Homo sapiens: one gene and its partner. The protein of the gene in region 1 purifies or fractionates together with the protein of each later gene. This does not show direct contact. Each region holds a gene or a part of one and is shown on either strand. Other genes may lie near its edges.

Evidence for each region.
Region 2: the proteins of ARNT2 (region 1) and FNTB purify together in Homo sapiens (affinity purification with mass spectrometry, with the first as the bait; one large-scale study listed by BioGRID). This does not show direct contact.

What each region holds. Positions count from the first base shown.
Region 1 is NC_000015.10:80,473,741-80,477,560, forward strand, and holds part of ARNT2 (aryl hydrocarbon receptor nuclear translocator 2), read left to right. Parts: intron 1-1,269; coding exon 1,270-1,483; intron 1,484-3,820. UniProt on the Homo sapiens protein: Transcription factor that plays a role in the development of the hypothalamo-pituitary axis, postnatal brain growth, and visual and renal function. Specifically recognizes the xenobiotic response element (XRE).
Region 2 is NC_000014.9:65,059,850-65,063,425, forward strand, and holds the end of FNTB (protein farnesyltransferase subunit beta), read left to right. Parts: intron 1-1,331; coding exon 1,332-1,463; 3' UTR 1,464-2,801; downstream 2,802-3,576. Other genes in the region: CHURC1-FNTB protein, read left to right, coding at 1,332-1,463. UniProt on the Homo sapiens protein: Essential subunit of the farnesyltransferase complex. Catalyzes the transfer of a farnesyl moiety from farnesyl diphosphate to a cysteine at the fourth position from the C-terminus of several proteins having the C-terminal sequence Cys-aliphatic-aliphatic-X.

The DNA of each region.
Region 1 (3,820 bases):
AAGCTCCCTGGGTTCTGCTCATCAGCATATCAATGTTCCCTAGTCTCTGGGTCCTTGTACCCTGCTCAGTTACTGGGATTTGGGGCGCCAGACTCTCCACCTTTTGCCTTCACTCTGCTGGCTGTCCATGTGCTTTACAGTGGGGTTTTCACATAAGATTACATTCAAACAAAAGATTGCCAGCCAAAAGATGTTTGCTAGCTGCTGACCTAGAAGGATACCTTTGTCCTCTGGAGCCTGAACAGTACTTGAAGTGGTTGGAAGGGTGGCCATGGATTACAGTGTCTAGGGAAGACTTAGTGCCTGGCTCCTGCAGGCACAAAGCCCATTTCATTCAGTGGCAAAGGGCTCCTTAGCTTGATGTGAGAATAGTATGGGCAACTATACTTGAGCTGCCTTCAGGCGCTGCAAAGAAAAGACATCTTGTTTTAACAAAGTTAATTTTGCCCCATCCACGTCCTTCTGAGGATAATATCAAGGCTTCCTGCTGCCCCTTCCTTGATCCCAGTTTCCTCCCTGCCTTCAATGACAGTCATGACCCCAATGAATCAATGTGAGCTGAAGGTTGATGCTCCTATCCTCTTCTCACTGTAAAGTGATATGGATAATGCTGTATTCCCTGCTGCCTCCCAGAGTTACTCTGAGAGTCTTTTGAGATGATGGTGATTATTGTCAGTTCTGGAAATCTGACAGAAATGCAAATGTAAGGGGATACTCTTATAGCCAGTGCCAGCATTCAGCTCAGAAATATGGAAAGAGAAAAGGAACAAGAGGGTACTTTCAGTACGGCAAGCTGTGGGTGGGGAGACACGTGGTCTCTTTCGTTCTCCCTTCTCACCTTCCCCTTCCCCTTCCCTTCCTTCTATCTAGCACCTTTTGTGCCAAGCACTATGTGTTGGGCCCTTCTGCTCCAATGACATGACTACAGTTTCAATATGTGGCAAAGCTGTTCACGCCTCTGGCAACCCAGTACCTTCTGGTGATCACTCATTGCTCTCCCATCCCCCTAGGCTGGAAATTTTCTCTCCCCAACAAAGGACTAATGAAGATGGGCTAACCGTGTTTACAGTAGCTGTATCGTAGGGATGGTGCAAGCTTTGTGCATTTTTCTAGCTTATTTTCCAGAAACAAAGTTCTCATTTCCCAAACTATTTGTGTACCAGAATAAATATGCAGATAAAGGAAATTGAAGGCTGCTTTCCCAATAAGAAAGTTGAATCATCCTGGGTCTGTCAGTGTATTGTGCCAATCATAATCTTTTCTTTATAGGAACTGAAGCATCTCATCCTTGAAGCAGCTGATGGATTTCTGTTTGTGGTGGCTGCTGAGACAGGGCGAGTGATTTATGTGTCTGACTCCGTCACCCCTGTTCTGAACCAGCCCCAGTCAGAGTGGTTTGGGAGCACACTGTATGAACAGGTGCATCCTGATGACGTGGAGAAGCTGAGAGAGCAACTGTGCACCTCAGAAAACTCAATGACAGGTCAGTGGAGCTCCCTTTATGAGGCTGTTTGACTCTAGAAAACATTCTTGGCTGGGCATGGTGGCTCACGCCTGTAATCCCAGTACTTTGGGAGGCTGAGGCGGGTGGATCACGAGGTCAGGAGATCAAGACCATCCTGGCTAACATGGTGAAACCCCGTCTCTACAAAAAATACAAAAACAAAAAATTTGCCAGGCGTGGTGGTGGGCGCCTGTGGTCCCAGCTACTCCGGAGGCTGAGGTGGGAGAATGGCATGAACCTGGGAGGCAGAGCTTGCAGTGAGCCAAGATTGTGCCACTACACTCCAGCCTGGGTGACAGAGTGAGACTCTGTCTCAAAAAAAAAAAAAAAAAAAAATTATTTTAGTAAACAGGCCAGGAAACTGGAGGCCATAAAAAGCTGCCTAAAGGTGAGGGAATATATGTGAGTTGGCCTGTGTGATAGCTTCATTCATTCGATAACATTTAAAAATCCATTTTTACTACATCACATTTTTCTGTATTTTACCTGCAATTAGTATACATTACCACTAGAGGTTGTCGTTGATATATTAGCCAGATCCATATGCCCTGTTTGAAGTTTATCCAATAAGCATGTGATTTTCTGTGATCCTGACCATAAACATTCATTACCCAGGCCTTAGTTACCTGAAATCTAGTTCCTTATTGAAATGTTTAAATATAGTCAATTCTACTCATACATGTTTCTAAAAATCACTGCAGTATACACAATCATGCAATTCAAAACTATAGGGCTTATCGAGAAAAAGTGGTTTAGAAGAACAACACTCAATAATTTGTCAGATAAAAGCAAAAATAAAAACCTATTATAAATGGTAGCACAGCTTTAACATTAAGTGGTTAAGAAATGTATACATCTTACCACACATATGGCAGTTGAGTTTGAAAATGACCTAAAGTTTGCTTAAGAGGTGGTCTCAGAAGGTGTGGTCATTTGTATGTTATTGCGAAATGGTAGGAGGACAGTCATGTGAAATCAGACGGAGAGTTTTAACTCCAAATGTGGATGAGTGTGGCTAATAACACACCGTGGGCCGAGAGAGCTGACTGATGTCTGAGGTATGTGAATTTTGTGTATTTCCGTGTGGCCCGGTTCAGCTAGGCACAACCTTTCTATGTTCATCTAGTTTTTCTTACAGATAAGCAAACACAACATTCACATTATGCTCAGATTGTTCCTTAATATGTCAATCACATTGGAACAAATTTGCATTGTTGAAACAAGAGTTATAGAAGCATTATACCAAAATATTTGCATTCTGCTCTATGACAGATATATTTGTGTTGTCATTCTCCCTGACCATATTGTGAGCTGTTGTATTCCCACTTGCTTTTGTGTCTGCCCACAGTGCTAAACTCAGTGCTTTGCCCATAGTAGGCCTTCAGCAGAAGCCTGATGAATTAGTGAGTGTGTTGTTTATTGTGGTCAGCCTAGGATGCCATAACAAAATACCACAGAATGGGTTACTTAAATAACAGAAATGTATTTTCTCATAGTTCTGGAGGCTGGGCATTCAGTGTCCTAATCCATTTGGGCTGCTATAACAAAATACAATAAACCGAATAGCTTTTATGTAACAGAAATTCATTTCTCACTGATATGGTTTAGATCTGTGTCCTCACCCAAATGTCATGTTCAATTGTAATTCCCAATGTTGGGGGCAGGCCCTGATGGGAGGTGATTGGATCATGGGGGTGGGTTCGCCTGAATGGTTTAGTACCATCCTCTTGGTCCTGCTCTCGTGATAGTGAGTGAGTTCTCACAAGATCTGGTTGTGTGTAGTACCTTCCCACTCTCTCTCTTAAGAGTTCCTGCTTCTGCCATGTAAGACACCTGCTTCCCTTCACCTTCCGCCATGATTGTAAGTTTCCTGAGGCCTCCTCAGAGGCCAAGCAGATATCAGCATCATGCTTTTTGTACAGCCTGCAGAATGGTGAGCCAATTAAACCTCTTTTCTTTGTGAATTACCCAGTCTCAGGTATTTGTTTATACAATGGGAGAACAGACTAATACAGTCAGAGTTCTAGAGGCTGGGAAGTCCAAGATCAAGGCACCTTGATGTCTGGCAAGGGCCTACTTTCTAGATGTTGCCTTCTAGCTGTGTCCTCACATGGTGGAAGGGACTAGCTATCTATCTGGGATCTGTTTTATAACAGTACCTAATCACCTCCTAAAGGCCCCATGTCCTAATATCATCATCTGGGAGATTAGAATTTCAGCGTACGAATTTGGGGAGAGCGTAAGCATTTAGTCCATTGCATTCAAGATCAGTATATCATCAGGTTTGTTGTCCCCTAAGGCCCTTCTCCTTGATTT
Region 2 (3,576 bases), on another chromosome or scaffold:
TTTTGAGACAGAGTCTCGCTGTTGCCCAGGTTAGAGTGCAGTGGCACAATCTTGGCTCACTGCAACCTCCGCCTCCCGGGTTCAAGCAATTCTCCTGCTTCAGCCTCCCAACTAGCTGGGATTACAGACACTCACCATCATGCTCGGCTAATTTTTGTATTTTTGTAGAGACGGGGTTTCACCATCTTGGCCAGGCTGGTCTTGAACTCCTGACCTCGGGTGATCCATCCACCTCGGCCTCCCAAAATGCTGGGATTACAGGCATGAGCCACCGCGTCCGGCCCCCTTTTTCTTGATTATAAATGTAAATACATGTTTATTGTTTTAATAATTGGGATACATAAAATATAAAAAAGAAAATGAAAAACAATCATATCACTATTAATATTTTGGTATGGGTACAATTTTTGCTATTTATATACATCACAGGTACAAATACACTTTTTAAAAAGTTTGAGACCAGGTGTGGTGGCTCACACCTGTAACCCCAGCACTTTGGGAGGCCGAGGCGGGTGGATCACCTGAGGTCAGGAGTTCGAGACCAGCCGGACCAACATGGTGAAACCCTGTCTCTACTAAAAATACAAAAATAATCCCAGCACTTTGGGAGGCCGAGGCGGGCGGATCACGAGGTCAGGAGATCGAGACCATCCCGGCTAAAACGGTGAAACCCCGTCTCTACTAAAAATACAAAAAATTAGCCGGGCGTAGTGGCGGGCGCCTGTAGTCCCAGCTACTTGGGAGGCTGAGGCAGGAGAATGGCGTGAACCCGGGAGGCGGAGCTTGCAGTGAGCCGAGATCCCGCCACTGCACTCCAGCCTGGGCGACAGAGCGAGAGACTCCGTCTCAAAAAAAAAAAAAAAAAATACAAAAATTACCCAGGCGTGGTGGCTCACACCTGTAATCCCAGCTACTCAGGAGGCTGAGGCAGGAGAATTGCTTGAACACAGGAGGCAGAGGTTGCAGTGAGCTAAGATCGTGTCAATGCACTCCAGCCTGGGCAACAGAGCAAGACTCTCTCAAAAAAAAAAAAAAAAAAAAAAAAACAGTTTGAGATAGTATTGTACATACTGTTTTCTCACATAATATGTTGTAAGTATTTGCCTGTATCGTTAAATATTTAAATGCGTGTTTATAATGGCTGTATATTAACCTGTGTCCCATGTACTAGATAGTTTTAGCAAATACACCATTTTTGAACCTTTGGGCTTTGTGTGTATCTCTGATTCCTTATACTAAATTCTTAGAAGTGCCTTTCATGGAGCAAAGGATGTGTTATGTTTTCAAGGACCACCGGGGTGATTAACTGGCACCTTTTCTTCTCTTTGCAGCAGCCCACTCACCCAGTGTACAACATTGGACCAGACAAGGTGATCCAGGCCACTACATACTTTCTACAGAAGCCAGTCCCAGGTTTTGAGGAGCTTAAGGATGAGACATCGGCAGAGCCTGCAACCGACTAGAGGACCTGGGTCCCGGCAGCTCTTTGCTCACCCATCTCCCCAGTCAGACAAGGTTTATACGTTTCAATACATACTGCATTCTGTGCTACACAAGCCTTAGCCTCAGTGGAGCTGTGGTTCTCTTGGTACTTTCTTGTCAAACAAAACCAATGGCTCTGGGTTTGGAGAACACAGTGGCTGGTTTTAAAAATTCTTTCCACACCTGTCAAACCAAAAATCTATCAGCCCACGTGGTGTGGTTGGTGAACAGTGCATGCCAGGAGGAAGCAGTCCCTCCTCACCAGCTCTCCAGCCAGGACGATCACACAGAGATGAATGGCATCTGAGTATTACGGCATCCAGAGCCACTGCTGACTCCCACTTGCACGCCACCATTCAGTCACCAGACTGGGTGCCCTCCGATGGGTGGAATAAGTCTGCTTCATGCCAAGGCTGGGCTTTGGGTCCCACCAAGATGAGTTCTCTGTAAGACTGTGGTGGAGTTGCACCAGGAGGTGCCTCTGCCTCTCGACTTGCACCCTGGTCATTTGTAAGGGAAAAGAGCTGGAGGTGGGGAGAGAAAGATCTCCTTCAGTTGGGAGTCCTTCCACTTCAACACTGGAGAACTGAGCCTTGCATCTCTCCAGGGTCCAAGGCCACGCTTGGTGCACAGGCAAGACTTGCTTCAGCCCCAGGTGTGGTGACTTAGACCTAGGAAACCAATTATGAGTGGAAAGTGACCCTCTAGTTCAACTGTGCCAGAGGAAACAGCCCTCCAGTGCCCACCTGCCTCACTCCTCCCTATCATGTACCGTGAAAACCCCCTCTGATGGCCTCAAGGCAGTGCCTGCAGGCCGAGGCCCTTCTGGGGGTTTCTATCTTTCTTCCACCAGACTCCAAGCCCACTCTCCTCCAAGACTGTGTTGTCTTTTCTCACCAAGAGTATTAACACTACTAAGTCTTTCACCTTAACTTATGACTCAGGATTTATTCACGTCCTGCCCACTCTAGGCTCACAGGAATAAAATCAAGTGCTAGACACACTGGCTGCTACTAAGGCACTAGCCTCTGTAGCTGGTGGTGGCAGCGTGGGGTGCCGCCCAGCGTGCTGGGTCCTGGCAGTGCCTCTGCTGTGCTGCACATTGAGCCCTTTCTCAGTCAGTGGAGTATCAAGTTGGGCCATCTGTCTACTGACCTGGCCTTCATGTAAGCAGCTGTGGGCTGCGGGCAGACAGGAGCTCAGAGATGCAGCATGAGGCGCTTAGAAAAACCTGGCCATTTGCTGCCTCTAATTCCCTTTTGCTTTGCCATATTGGGCTATGTATTACCTCCTTGAAATAATAAAAGAATAACATTTTCTATGATGTCTCTTATTTGTGATCTGTACCAAGAAAATGCCCAATGGTAGGAGCTACTAAAGGTTGCTCAGGGATCGTCAGTCTCCTGTGTGCAGGATTCCAGACTGTTCACATCGGTGGTGACAGAGGAATGACCGAGTTCCATCCTCACATGCCGTCTCCTCCAGTAGAGGAAGCCGTGGGCCTAACAGAGAGTGGGAAGAGATGTTTTCCAAGCTCCCTGGGGTAATTCGGTATGCTATGTCCCAGCCCTCCACACACTGCACTTCATGGTCTGTCTCCGACAGACAGCAAGGACTGGGCCTAGTAGCCCCAGAGCAGGCTGACTTAGCAAGGGTGGGTGGATGTCTGGCCAGAGGCAGGGGCTGTCACAGGGACAGGCTGGAACTCTGTGGCCACTTGGCTTTCCCTTCCTCTGGCGAGAGACCCTCTCCCATGGGAGGCCAAGAACATGGATGTCCTGTGGCCTGACCCTCTTGGAGGGGAGAGAAGATGGTGTCCTTAGAGGGCACCCAAATCCATGTAAATAAGCCAAATGCACATCCAGGAATGTAATTCCTGCCCCCTGTGCTATTTTTGCCCTGTTAACAAAGGTTTGCACTGCAAGGCAACATATTGAAATGCATCCTTTCCATCACTATAACAAAAGGCAAAATCCTCTCAGCACTCGGAGCCTCAAGGTATTGTGAGATTAATTGCAGTAATAATTAATGTGGTTAATAGAAGGGATTGCTTCAGTCTGAACTGGCTTTTTACCAAGAAGGAGGGATCTGAGT